Linked DNA regions of Homo sapiens: regions 1, 2 and 3 are each reported to be linked to region 4. The links are microRNA targets in miRTarBase. Many come from high-throughput screens and were not tested one by one. Region 4 holds a microRNA gene; each other region holds the end of a gene's coding sequence.
The links. Region 4 holds the annotated microRNA hsa-miR-764 (GCAGGUGCUCACUUGUCCUCCU, at 1,279-1,300, shown strand). A microRNA usually pairs through its seed, bases 2 to 8, with sites in the 3' UTR of a target mRNA and lowers its output. Matches are read on the target gene's strand: a 7mer-m8 pairs with bases 2 to 8, a 7mer-A1 pairs with bases 2 to 7 and ends in A, and an 8mer does both.

Region 1 (3,182 bases), not on the chromosome of region 4:
TCAACAAGGAAATGTATTTATTTTTTCTTTAGAATTTGGCTCAGAACAGTAACAAAAATATTTACATTAAAATAAATTAACATGCAATTACTTAACCATATGTAATAATTTACGTTGGAATATATTAGCCTTCCCATGAGTTTAATAAAAACTAATATTTGGTTTTAGATTCAATACCATCCTTTCAAATATTTGGTATGAAACTTGGTAGCAATGCAATTGTCTGATGTACAGAGCAGATTTCACCATGAGAGATTACACCAAAGAACAGATGTCCCTTCCCAGAACATTATCTCACCCCAGACTCAGAAACTGAGCAGCCAAGCTTCCTTCCCAGGAATCACCATGGAATGTCTGAACAATAACCAGGCCCTGGAGATTACTGCAGGGCTGGCAGAGTTTTAGGAATCAGCCAAACTCTTTTTCACACTAACCCACTAGGAAGGATATAGTTCAAATGTAATGTTGAGTCCTTCAGTTTATTTGAACACTGAAACAATATGTTGTAGAAACCTTCATTTTCCCAAAATAGAAATCTGAAAGATATATGCACATGATTTCTTAGATCATCTAAAAGTACCCATAAAAACCTGTCACTAGGGCCAGGTGTGATGGCTTACACCTGTAATCCCAGCACTTTGGGAGGCAGAGGCGGGCGGATCACCTGAGGTCAGGAGTTCAAGACCAGCCTGGCCAACATGGTGAAACCCTGTCTACTAAAAATACAAAAAAAAATCAGCCGGGCGTGGTGCATGTGCCTGTAATCCCAGCTACTCAAGAGGCTGAGGCAGGAGAATCACTTGAACTTGGGGGGCAGAGGTTGCATTGAGCCACTGCACTCCAGCCTGGGTGACAGAGTGAGACCCGTCTCAAAAAAATAGAACACCTGTCACTAGACCAAATACTATACTGGTAAAATTTCACAGCAGAGAGGAATATTTCATTAAATTCAGCTGATAGGGTCAAGGATACATTAAGTCATTTACAAATCAGATATTAGTATTAAAGTTTTTGGTGGCCTAGAGTGAATTAGAATATGTTAGCATTTTGAAAGTGTTTTTGAAATGAGAGGTTGTGTGGCTCAGCAGCAAAAGCACAGAGGGACCTGGGATCAAACCCTCTCTCTAGCCCCATAGCTTAACAGTCAAACACACCAAGTTCTATAAAATAAAAATTAAAACACCTACCTCATATGTTGAGATAATTTAGGATAATGTATATGAAGCACCTAGTTCAGAGCCTGGCACACAGTAGGCACTTAATAAGTGGTGGCAGTTAGTATTTCTTCCAAGTTAACAATTCATAGCCAGAACTTTGGCTTTTGTATTTTGACACCAATGAAAACACGAATCATGTAGACAGAATCCTGATTCATGGCTCTGGGCTCTAGGTAAAACTCAAAACTTTAATGGACACCCTAGGGTGTTACTCAACACAGTATGAAAGGCTACTGAAGGAAGAAGTGTCTGCTGGTCAGTAGCAAAGATCCTTTTGGGACAGTTAATCTCCTTTTAAAGGCTCTAAGTCCCAGTGGCTTCTCAGCTGTCCTAAGAAGATAAGGACAAGGTCACTAAGGCCACTGTAATTTAGATCCCTGGTCTAAAGTCTCTTGTAAGTTCAGCTAGAGTAATAACATCTTTCAACAAATGGTATCCAGGATTAGGGGGGATATCTGAGATGGGGGAGTGATAGATATGTCCAGTGTCTTGATTGTGGTGATGCTTTCACAGGTATACATATGTCAAGGCTTATCAAATTGTAGGCTTTAAAAACAATAAAGCTGTTTTAAAAAAAAGTGTACTTAAGCCCTTCCTGGTAAGATTTCCCTCTGTTCTCTGACTGGATCACCTTCTGTGATCTTAGTTTGGGGTTAGAGGAGGAAGGATGTGTGTGTGTGTGTGTGTGTGTGTGTAGACGGAGTCTCGCTCTGTCACCCAGGGTGGAGTGCAGTGGCATGATCTCGGCTCACTGCAACCTCCGCCTCCCGGGTTCAAGCAATTCTCCTGCCTCAGCCTCCCGAGTAGCTGGGACTACAGGCACATGCCACCACGCCCGGCTAATTTTTGTATTTTAGTAGAGATGGGGTTTCACCATGTTGGCCAGGCTGGTCTTGAACTCCTGACCTCAGGTGATCCGCCCATCTCGGCCTCCCAAAATGTTGGGATTACAGGCGTGAGCCACTGCGCCCAGCTGGAAGGATTATTATTATTATTATTATTATTATTATTATTTATTATTATTATTTTTGAGATGGAGTCTTGCTCTGTCACCCAGGCTGGAGTGCAGTGGTGCGGTCTCAGTTCACTGCCAGCTCCGCCTCCCTGGTTCATGCCATTCTCCTGCCTCAGCCTCCCGAGTAGCTGGGACCCGCCACCACACCCAGCTAATTTTTTGTATTTTTAGTAGAGACGGGGTTTCACCATGTTTCACCATGTTAGCCAGGGCGGTCTCGATCTCCTGACCTCGTGATCCGCCCGCCTCGGCCTCCCAAAGTGCTGGGATTACAGGCGTGAGCCACTGTGCCCGGCCTGGAAGGATTATTAATGCAAACTTCAGGATGAAGTGATATCCCAGGCAAGGCCTGAAGGTCTCAGTGGTATTAATACATTAGTAAGCAGAGTTCTAAGAAGGCTTCCTCTCTATTATTGTAGCTGCTTTGGCACAGAAAATTGTGACTGTAACTTACAGGGTTTGAGCTAAAATGACCCCTAGTAAGAAGACATCAGAAAGAATAGCATCTACAAAAATAGGAGTGGGGAAAGGTGACTCTGGAAGAGGAGACCAAAAGTGAAAACATTTCTCTGCCAAAGTCACCTGCAGTTCAATACCAGATTTGATTGTTAAGAAACGGTCATCCTAAAGACAAGAACTTGATTCCACTCAGGAGCTCTGGAGAGAAGGTCCATGTCTGTTCCTGGAGGTCTAGTAGATCCTGCGTGTTGTGTAGTCCAGAACCATGCTGGCAGCACCCAGCAGGGCGGGGTCAACCAAATCCGAAACCACCACATCCACGTCCTGCACGGAGGACAAGGCCTGCTGGCGAATGACGTCTTTGACAATGTGGATATAGTGACTGGCCAGGACTCCGGAGAGGATCACAAGGGAGGGATTCATGGTATGGAGGATGTTCACAACCCCAAGACCCAAAGCTGTTCCAGCTATAGGGAGACAAAAATTAAAAT
Region 2 (3,182 bases), not on the chromosome of region 4:
TTGCCAGCACAGTAGTTCATTGTGAGAAGTGTTTCTAATGGGTGCTACAGGGCTGCAGAGGCAAGCTTTGGGAATGCTGTTGGTGCAGCAAGTGCTTCCGGGTGGCGGATTGCCATAGCATAGGGGAAACAACTCCTGGTCTTCCATTTAAGAGGGTCATACCTTCACTGTACCTGGGGGATCTCAATACTCCAAGTAAAGGAATCAGCATGGAATCAAATTATTGATAAATGTGATGCTGCAACCAGAATGTTGAGCACTGCATGATACAGACGAAGTCGATGTTGTAGGTCATTAGTAACATGTGGTATGGGAGGTTCTGGTTTCTGTAAGTGCATGGTTTCCATGGACTTGGAGATGATGATGCCTCTGAGGACATGTCATTTAGAGCTGGGCAGACCGCACAGAGAATTGTGGTACAGATTGTTGTAACAGTATGAAGCCCTCTCATTTGCTGTATGTACAGCATGGCCAGTGCTAATGTGCTCAATTTCCGTAGGTGGGGCTGTAATCTCGTAATTCCCAGTCAAAAGAGGTAGGAAGGGATGCTGAGGACCCAGGGATACTGATGATTGGGCTGACCCAGAAGTGGCCATCTTTGTGGAAACCAGGTTGGTTCCCTTGGTTAACTTTTTAAATGCCCCCATTCCCAGGGCCATGAGTAATTTGAGTTGTTTTTTGTTGTTGTTGTTGTTATTGTTTGAGATGGAGTTTCACTCTTGTCACCCAGGCTGGAGTGCAATGGTGTGATCTCAGCTCACTGCAACCTCCACCTCCAGGGTTCAAGCAATTCTACTGCCTCAGCCTCCCGAGTAGCTGGCATTACAGGCGCATGCAACCACGCCCAGCTAATTTTTTGCATTTTTAGTAGAGACGGGGTTTCACCGTGTTGGCTAGGCTGGTCTCAAACTCCTGATCTCAGGTCATCTGCCTGCCTCAGCCTCCCAAAGTGCTGCAATCACAGGCATGAGCCACCTGGCCTGTTTTTTAAAAAGCCTAAGCCTGTTGACCCCAGGCTCCACAATCTTCAATTTTCCGAGTCTCAGTTTTTTTTTCATGAGTAAAATAGAGGTAATACCTACCTCACAGAGATTTTGTGAAGATTAAATGAAACAGTGTCTGGACCATAAGTGCCCAATATAAAGGTAAAAATATTTTTCTTTTTGCGCCTAATATGTAGCATTCTCTTTGCTCCTTCTCTATGTAAATGTTAGATCACTATTTTCAAGCACTCCTTAAATACTGATATTTCTCAGGTAATCATCTTCAGCTCAGGACTGTATTTACCCTATCTTAATTTCACCTATGGCCTATACCCTGATGATCCCCAAAGCCCTGTAACCAACCCAGGTACTGATGAGTTTAGAACTGCCCAGCAGCACAACAGACACATATTAGATATATCAAGCACCTAAAACAATATCCAAAGGAGAATTATCTTTTTTTTCTTAAATCTGTCCCTTCTATTCCCCATTAAACTGTAATCTCTGGGACAACAGGGACCATATTGGGACATGACTATGGTCCTGGAGCTTAGAAAAATGCCTGGCACATAGGAGTTAAATATCCGAAGGACTAAATGGGCTCTTATCTATGAATAAGATGAATGCTTAAGAGAAAAATAGCAAAAGCCTTGGATCCCTTTTCCACTTTGGGTTGTTCAGGGAGAAACTGCCCTGTGTGATTTTGGAGTAACAGCTGGGCCTAAAGCTCTAGCCCCTGCTATTACACATACTACTTCATTTCAACGGTCACAGGCAACATGAACACAAGACACTTCTCAACCATGGAAAAACATCTGGATTTCATTTGGTAGTTTAAAGGTTTTTGAAAATGTTGATATACACAAGCTGTACTTGGAGCTGGATAACAGACATAGGAGCTGGATGACAGACATACTTTTATTCTTTTATTTTTGAGATGGAGTTTCACTGTCACCCAGGCTGGAGTGCAATGGAGCGATCTTGGCTCACTGCAACCTCCACCTCCCAGGCTCAAGCAATTCTCCTGCCTCAGCCTCCTGAGTAGCTGGGATTACAAGTGCCTGGCACCACGCCCAGCTAATTTTTGTAGCTTTAGTAAAGACGGGGTTTCACCATGTTGGCCAGGCTGGTCTCAAACTCCTCACCTCAGGTGATCCACCTGCCTCGGCTTCCCAAAGTACTGGGATTACAGGCGTGAGCCACTGCGCCCGGCCTTAACATAGGATTTTCATCCTAGAATGACTTTTCCCCAAAAAGATTCAATCTTAGGCCTCTTGCTGTAGGCAAGTTCCATGGGACTGCACAAAAGAGGCAGGGAAACAGTCCCCATGGGAGATTGTAGTTTCTTTAAAAATAGGCTTCTAGGCCAGGAATGGTGTCTCATGCTTGTAATCCCAGCAGGTTAAGAAGCCAAGGCAGAGGATCCCTTGAGCCTAGGCATTACAGACCAGCCTGGGCAACACAGGGAGACCCTCCTGTCTCTATAAAAAATCAAAAAAGTTTGCCAGGCATGGTAGCATGCGCCTGTGGTCCCAGCTACTCATGAGGCTGAGGTGGGAGGAACTCTAGAGCCCAGGAGGTTGAGGCTACAGTGAGCCACAGTTATGCCACTGCAATCCTGCTTGGGTGACAGAGCGAGACTTTGTCTCAAAAAAAATTCTTTTAATTAAAAAAAAAAAAAAGCTTTACTACTTCCTGTGGAGTTCATAAAAAGTTCTTCCCTTTGTTTTAGTCATCCAGAGTAAAGTCATAGGGCTCAAAGTCTTTCCGGAAGCGGCGAGCCAGGGTCTCCTCGTCTTCCTTGCTGATCTGACACTGCCTCCAGTCAGACTTATCAGGAACATTAAGGATGGCTTCACTGGCCAGGACCTCCCTGCAGAAATAGCACAAAGAAGTCAAAATGGAAACTATCAGCCTGAGCTCTCCTCAACATCACCCAAAGGAGGTATGCAAATTTCTCTGACTTTGCTCTCCTGCCCTGAGTGCCATCTCTGCCATACTATTGATCAAAATCATACCCGTTTTAAATGACCAGCTCAGGTACTATATATTTCCTGATCCTTCAAACCCCACTTGCTTCTCCCTCTCTTAAAAAACTTGGAACTATATTATTGGTACTTAGAGAAGCAACACCACATAGAAAAAGGGCAGGCCCTGGTGTGAGAAAGATCAGAGACTGGATCCCATTTCCAGCTTTGC
Region 3 (3,000 bases), not on the chromosome of region 4:
CTCGCCGATGGCTCCCAGGGACCACTGACCTAATCAAGGGCCTCCTCCTTCACACGCCACCCTCCACCCCAACCCCTTTATGCCTTCTTAAAGTCCTTCAGGGAGGGGACCCACCATCAAGATTGTCCTTTCTGGCACCTAACTCTTCTGTCTGCTAGAAGACAGCAATGAGACTGTCCCTACAACGATGATGCTTATGGTGGCCACATCTCAAAGAAGCTGAGAGGGATCTCAGCCCCGTATTGTCACTTGGGAGGCAGAACCCAAATCTTAGTAAATGAAGACTTTCTCTCTTGAACCATTCACAGGAATACTGAAGGTAATGAAAAAATAATGTGTAAACCATCCTTTGGAGCAGAGGCTACAAACTCACATGCCCGCCTGGACCAGCACCGGGCAGACGTCTTACATGAGTGAAGTGCAGTGGGGGATGGGAAGGGCGGGGGAGGGGGTAAAGGTGGTGGGGGTGAGCCGCAGCAGACTTGAGATGACAGCATGCCCCATCCTCCACCCAGAAAACTAGGTATTTTTTATACGTAATCTCCCAAGTTTCAAATATTGGCAATACATACAAAAGGTTATGAAGCCTTATAACTTCTGCCTTAGGCAAATTCCAAACTTAAACAAAGCTCCCTCTCCCACTAAATAAGAAAACTTTAATAAGATGATTACAAAGAAATTAATAAAGAAATAGAAAATGATAGCAGCTTCAAAAATACCAGTCTCCCTGTTTTAAAACAAAATCAATAAAATCAGTGAATCACAATTCATTGAACTCATTCTTGGCTACAAGGAAGCAGCTGGATAGATCCACTGGCAGGCAGCCCTGCAGGATTAAAATGAGGCCCACTGCCAAAAAGCCCCAAATGAGATGCCGTCCTCCTCATCCTCACACCATCCTCATCAGGCAGGGAAGGAATAGGATTAGACTCCCTATTATGGAGAATAGGTTGAGGCACAGAGCAGGAAGGGCCCCTTCTTAATATCATAGAGCCCCTCTGTTGGGTCAGACCAGAACTGGGGGCAGAGGCTAAAGGTGAGACCCACTGCTGTCCAGGAGCAAGGGGCTGGGGGTAGGGGCTACCCTGGCAGCCGGGAGTTCTGGAGCCAGTGATCTAGAGCCCCCCAGCAAAACAGGTTTCCCATTGCACCATTTGGCACTATCCTGGAGAGAGCTGAAATAACAAATCAAAGTTAGGCAGCACCTTGCAGGGCACCGAGCAAATAGTAGGCGCAGTTGTGTGTCTGCTGCGTAAACTGTGCATCATGAATGAAGGGAGCTACTTCCCTCAGCTAGTGCCTCCCCTCCAGGGAAATCCAGGAGCTGCCTTTGCCATTCCGAAGACTCTGGATTTCTCCAAGGCAGGCAAAGAAGACAAGGGAGGTAATGGTGAGTTCCCTCCGTGAATAAACACATGGATTTCCCAGCTCTAAGGGAACATCATCGATTCTGTCAGACTCACGGACACAGAGGAAGGGATTCCAGAACCTCACAGAAACAGAGAGCCCGGAGGGGCTGTGTTTGCATTGAGCTTGGGCTAGGACCTGAGAGCTAGAGCAAGTCCTATACCCAGTAGTCCAAGCCCCTAGCTTTCCTTCTGTTTGGTGCCTATAGGAATTCCCTAGCATCCTTATACCCAAAGGACTTGGCACAGAAAGTCGATGTCAACATGAGAAAGAAAGAGGCTCTTTGTTCTCACCGGCATGTGTGGCTATTTCTGTCCTGGCCCTGCAGCACGCAGACCGTCTTGGCCCTGGCCCGACAAGCCCCCAAGGCAACAGTGTAGTCTTTATTTTGGCTTGCTCTGGGAGCCAAGGTCCAGGGAAGCCTGACCCTCTCTGCTCTGGGGGACTCTGACAGGGAGAAGGCATTGGCTCAGCCAGAATGTCTCAAAGGTACTACAATTGGCATTGAATGGACCAATTCTTTGCTGTCAGAGACTGTTCTGCACATTGTGGGATGCCCACTAGATGCCAGGGGTGCCCCCACAGTCACTGTGACCCCCTCAACACACACACATTTCCAATGCTGCCTGGAGGGACAACCTGCCCCTGGTTTAAAGCCACTGGGCTGGTGGCCCCCTCATGCATTTGTGAAACAGAAGCCCCAGAGACTGAGTGACATGTTCAAGGCCATGCCTCAGCTCTGATGACTTCTGGTTCAGAGTTCTTCCCAGCTGCACTCTCAACGATGGGTGCCCATGCATGTGCCCAGAACACTGCAGACACACCATGGGGTGCCACAGCTCTGCAGAGCCTCAAAGCGGACAGCCATCTGTCTCAGTGGCTCAGAGAAACCGAGACAGAGAGACAAAATAACCTCCCTGTGATCAGACTTAGCAAATGCTGGGTGGGGAGTAGGTTCCCAGGGGAGACACTGTTTTAGGTCCTGCTTGTCTTAGTAAGCCCCACTGTCTAGCTGGTAACTGTGAGTGTGGCAGGCCTCCAGCAGGCGGGGGTTTCTGCAGTCTCCATGGAGACCTGGGGGCCAGTAAGACGGAGCCAGGCCCCAGTCTGTAGGTTAGAGCCAGGGACAGCGCAAGGGTCCAGCCTTCATCTTGAGTCTCCGGTGGGCTCAGCAGGAGTGTGTACGACTCCATCACAGGCTTTTGACCCCCTTCCAAGGTCATCACAGTCTCCATTGGGAAATATGGCTGTTAGTGGCAGCTCCTCCTCAGGTTCCTGGAAGTCTTCTGGAACACAGGAGAAGAAATCACTGAATCAGAAGAGAAAGGTTGTGAGTGAGTTATCTAGGAAGGAAAAGGAGAAAGTTGTCCCCAGCAAATACCTACTTAAAAAACAAAACAAAATACATATCAAAAACCTTAACGATGTACACACCCTTTGACCCACAAATTTCACTTCTAGGATTTTATCCTAAGAAAATAATTAGGAATAATTAGTGGAACTGCTGGAGCTATCTTGCTACCAGCCTAAGGATGAAACTGACACTGAAGATGGCCCAACAGAGAGAAAGAGCAAACCTGGGTGTTTGGTGGG
Region 4 (3,182 bases):
CCTCTCAGATGAGCTAGTGAAAACCTACTCATGCCCCAAACAATGTAGTAAACACAAATTGAGAGCGAGCAACAAAATAGCCCGAGAGTTCAATATAATGTGGAAATTCATAATTTAGAAACAAAGTCTGTCATTTTTAATACCTTCAAACAGGAATTTAACAATGTCTGTCACTGTCCATCTTTGAAATGCAGAGGTATGAGATGTTATATAACCAAGATCTTTAGGTTAGCAAGCATATAGATCAAATATGTTGTAAATGGAATCCTTGTACAATTTTAAACCTTCTTAAAGTGATAATTTGTAATATGTTTTTGACCATTATGTAATACGTTTATTTATTTATTTATTTATTATTTTTTTCTTTTATTATTATACTTTAAGTTTTAGGGTACATGTGCACATTGTGCAGGTTAGTTACATATGTATACATGTGACATGCTGGTGCACTGCACCCACTAGCTCGTCATCTAGCATTAGGTATATCTCCCAATGCTATCCCTCCCCCCTCCCCCCACCCCACCACAGTCCCCAGAGTGTGATATTCCCCTTCCTGTGTCCATGTGTTCTCATTGTTCAATTCCCACCTATGAGTGAGAACATGCAGTGTTTGGTTTTTTGTTCTTGTGATAGTTTACTGAGAATGATGATTTCCAATTTCATCCATGTCCCTACAAAGGACATGAACTCATCATTTTTTATGGCTGCATAGTATTCCATGGTGTATATGTGCCACATTTTCTTAATCCAGTCTATCATTGTTGGACATTTGGATTGGTTCCAAGTCTGTTATTGTGAATAATGCCGCAATAAACATACATGTGCATGTGTCTTGTAATACTTTTGTAGGTTTCAGTAATATTCTACAAGAAGAATGGATAACCTTAATGATCTCGAATATTTCTGGTTTTACTTTTGCTTGAGCAGTTTCATAAATGAATATTTTACTTGGCACATTATTTTTATTATTAAAAGAAAAAGGGCTTCTCCTATTACAAAAAGTAGTTCTATAAATATTTTGATCAAATTTTTAAACTATGTGACAAAACAATGTGAAATAAATATTTCAAATGCCATTTATTGATGAGTAAATTGTAAATATTGCTAAATTCCATTTACAAATTCTTGGAGGAACTTGGTTTTTAAAGGAAAACATCATGATCAATGTATGGATGTGCTCATTAGGAGACTCTTGGCCTTTTTCAGAAGGTTATACTCTGCCATAGTATAAAGAATCCTGGTGTGTTCGGGTGATATTTTCAATCTAAAATCTAGGAGGCAGGTGCTCACTTGTCCTCCTCCATGCTTGGAAAATGCAGGGAGGAGGCCATAGTGGCAACTGTTACCATGATTAATTTCGTTGGGATAGAAGATGGACCCGCTGGTTGTAATCAATGCATTGAGGACTCTCAGATCAGTGGGACTGTGAAATTTTAAACTCCTCAAGGTAGAACACAGTGGTAATGTTTTGAAATTTAAAGATTTTGAAATGCAAGCTACTTTTCTCAGGCCATTTCTTCTAAACAACACAACATAATGTTTAAGCCATGTGTTGTTCACAGATTATAATGTTGCAGTGATAAAATATATACTCCATTGGCAAAAATAAACAGCGGTAAAGGGACTGAGATTCTTGATTTTTAACTTTGTATTTAACCTTGTGTAATGCTGCCTGGAAAATTTTTGTAAAAGTATGAATAGATGTAAGAAGATTAATATATTATTACTGTATTTTACAATCTTTCTGTCCTTGAGTTTGAAGTATATTACAGGTTAAGGTTAAGCCAGGAAGTAAGATTGCTTTATAGAACTTTATAACTTTCAAAATTGACATTTGAAGAAATTGTGCTATACTATAATAGTGAAATAATAGTAATTACAAAGTAAATATAATCATCATTGAAATATAAATTTTCATACATTTTTTGTTCGACACATATTTATATAATACTTAATATATGAAAGGTATTTTCCATTCATAATCTATTTATCTTTAATGATAATCATTTTAGCAGTCTAATACTGGAAGTAGTATTTTCTTCAATTGACTGATGATAACGAATCCTCGAACCATAAAAAGTAGAATTGGATATTGTCAGTCTCTACATCTCTACTTAAATGTATTTTACATTCACTTTAAATGAAAACAATGAAACACATATATCTTTAAGAGTGATTAATGATTAGAAATAAGGGAGGCTTCTTATATGACACGGAATGCTAGTTAGAATAAAGTACACGGCTGGGCCATTGGGAAGTTGAACATTAAAGACTTTGCCAATCACATCTTATCATTTGCCACACTGCAGGTAGAGATTTATCCACATTTTGATCTTATAAGACTCAAATCTCATAGTACACAAAAGGTGTGTGTTACAGAGTGTTTTCAAGCTATGACATACCACAATGAAGCTTGACAGTAAATGTTTAATGGTTGGCTCTTTTGGTAACAAATTGGGCATATTTTTAAAATTATTGACATTCATTTTTGCAATGGCACAAACATCTTTTGAAGACTTACTAAATACAGGGCACTATGCTAAGTGTAATGAAGACAAAAGCAGATTCTGTGCATTCAAGTAGCTTACAGTCTGGGGAATAGAGATTTCTTGACCTTATTTCAAAAGTAGGACCTTTCTATCTTATGGATTTGTGATACAACATCTATTTTATTGCGCTGTTTCTCCTTGTTTCGTTCTCTTTCTTTCTTTCTTTCTTTTCCTTCCTTCCTTCCTGTCCTTCCTTCCTTCATTCTTTCCCTCCCCCTCCCTCCTTCTTTCTTTCTTTCCCTCCCTCCCTTTTTCTTTCTTTTTTCTTTCTTTCCTTCTTTCTTTCTCTCTTTCCTTCTCCTTTCTTTCTTTCTTCCTTTCTTTCTTTCTTTCTTTCTTTTTTTCTTTTCTTTTCTTTTCTTTTCTTTCTTTCATCTGTGTATTTCATCAGTGTCTACACCAGGCTGAAGTGTAGTAGCACAATCGCAGCTCACTATAACCTCGAACTCCCTGTCTCAAGCCATCCTCCTGCTTCTCCTTGTTTCTTAAACTTGAATAAAATGTTTATTCGTAGTAGATTTTCTGCTTTAGCAGATGCCACTGGATTCTGTTGACATATAAAATTCACGAATAGATGCATATATTTTCTCTTAAAACTGTTTTCTGCTTTTGCATAGTCCTTATATTTTAGAA

Region 1: miRTarBase lists GNE as a target of hsa-miR-764. Seed matches in the 3' UTR shown: 7mer-A1 at 2,125-2,131.
Region 2: miRTarBase lists CWF19L1 as a target of hsa-miR-764. Seed matches in the 3' UTR shown: 7mer-A1 at 2,130-2,136.
Region 3: miRTarBase lists C2orf72 as a target of hsa-miR-764. The part of its 3' UTR that is shown has no 7-base or 8-base seed match.

What each region holds. Positions count from the first base shown.
Region 1 is chr9:36,214,443-36,217,624 of GRCh38, forward strand. It overlaps GNE (glucosamine (UDP-N-acetyl)-2-epimerase/N-acetylmannosamine kinase), which reads right to left. Exons shown (of 12, transcript NM_005476.7): 12 at 1-3,158. The coding sequence ends at 2,923. Among named protein-coding and RNA genes, the nearest start is that of CLTA, 25 kb to the left of the region's middle.
Region 2 is chr10:100,230,516-100,233,697 of GRCh38, forward strand. It overlaps CWF19L1 (CWF19 like cell cycle control factor 1), which reads right to left. Exons shown (of 14, transcript NM_018294.6): 14 at 1,783-2,856. The coding sequence ends at 2,712. CHUK-DT (CHUK divergent transcript) reads left to right here. Exons shown (of 4, transcript NR_186419.1): 2 at 500-611; 3 at 2,716-2,928. Among named protein-coding and RNA genes, the nearest start is that of CHUK-DT, 2.4 kb to the left of the region's middle. RefSeq lists a silencer at 128-390.
Region 3 is chr2:231,046,575-231,049,574 of GRCh38, reverse strand. C2orf72 (chromosome 2 open reading frame 72) reads right to left here. Exons shown (of 3, transcript NM_001144994.2): 3 at 1-2,693. The coding sequence ends at 2,554. It overlaps LOC112268432 (a long non-coding RNA gene), which reads left to right. Exons shown (of 2, transcript XR_002959456.2): 2 at 1-699. Among named protein-coding and RNA genes, the nearest start is that of PSMD1, 8.8 kb to the left of the region's middle.
Region 4 is chrX:114,638,167-114,641,348 of GRCh38, forward strand. It overlaps MIR764 (microRNA 764), which reads left to right and starts at 1,269; the gene lies at 1,269-1,353. The region is part of intron 2 of HTR2C (5-hydroxytryptamine receptor 2C); the gene reads left to right.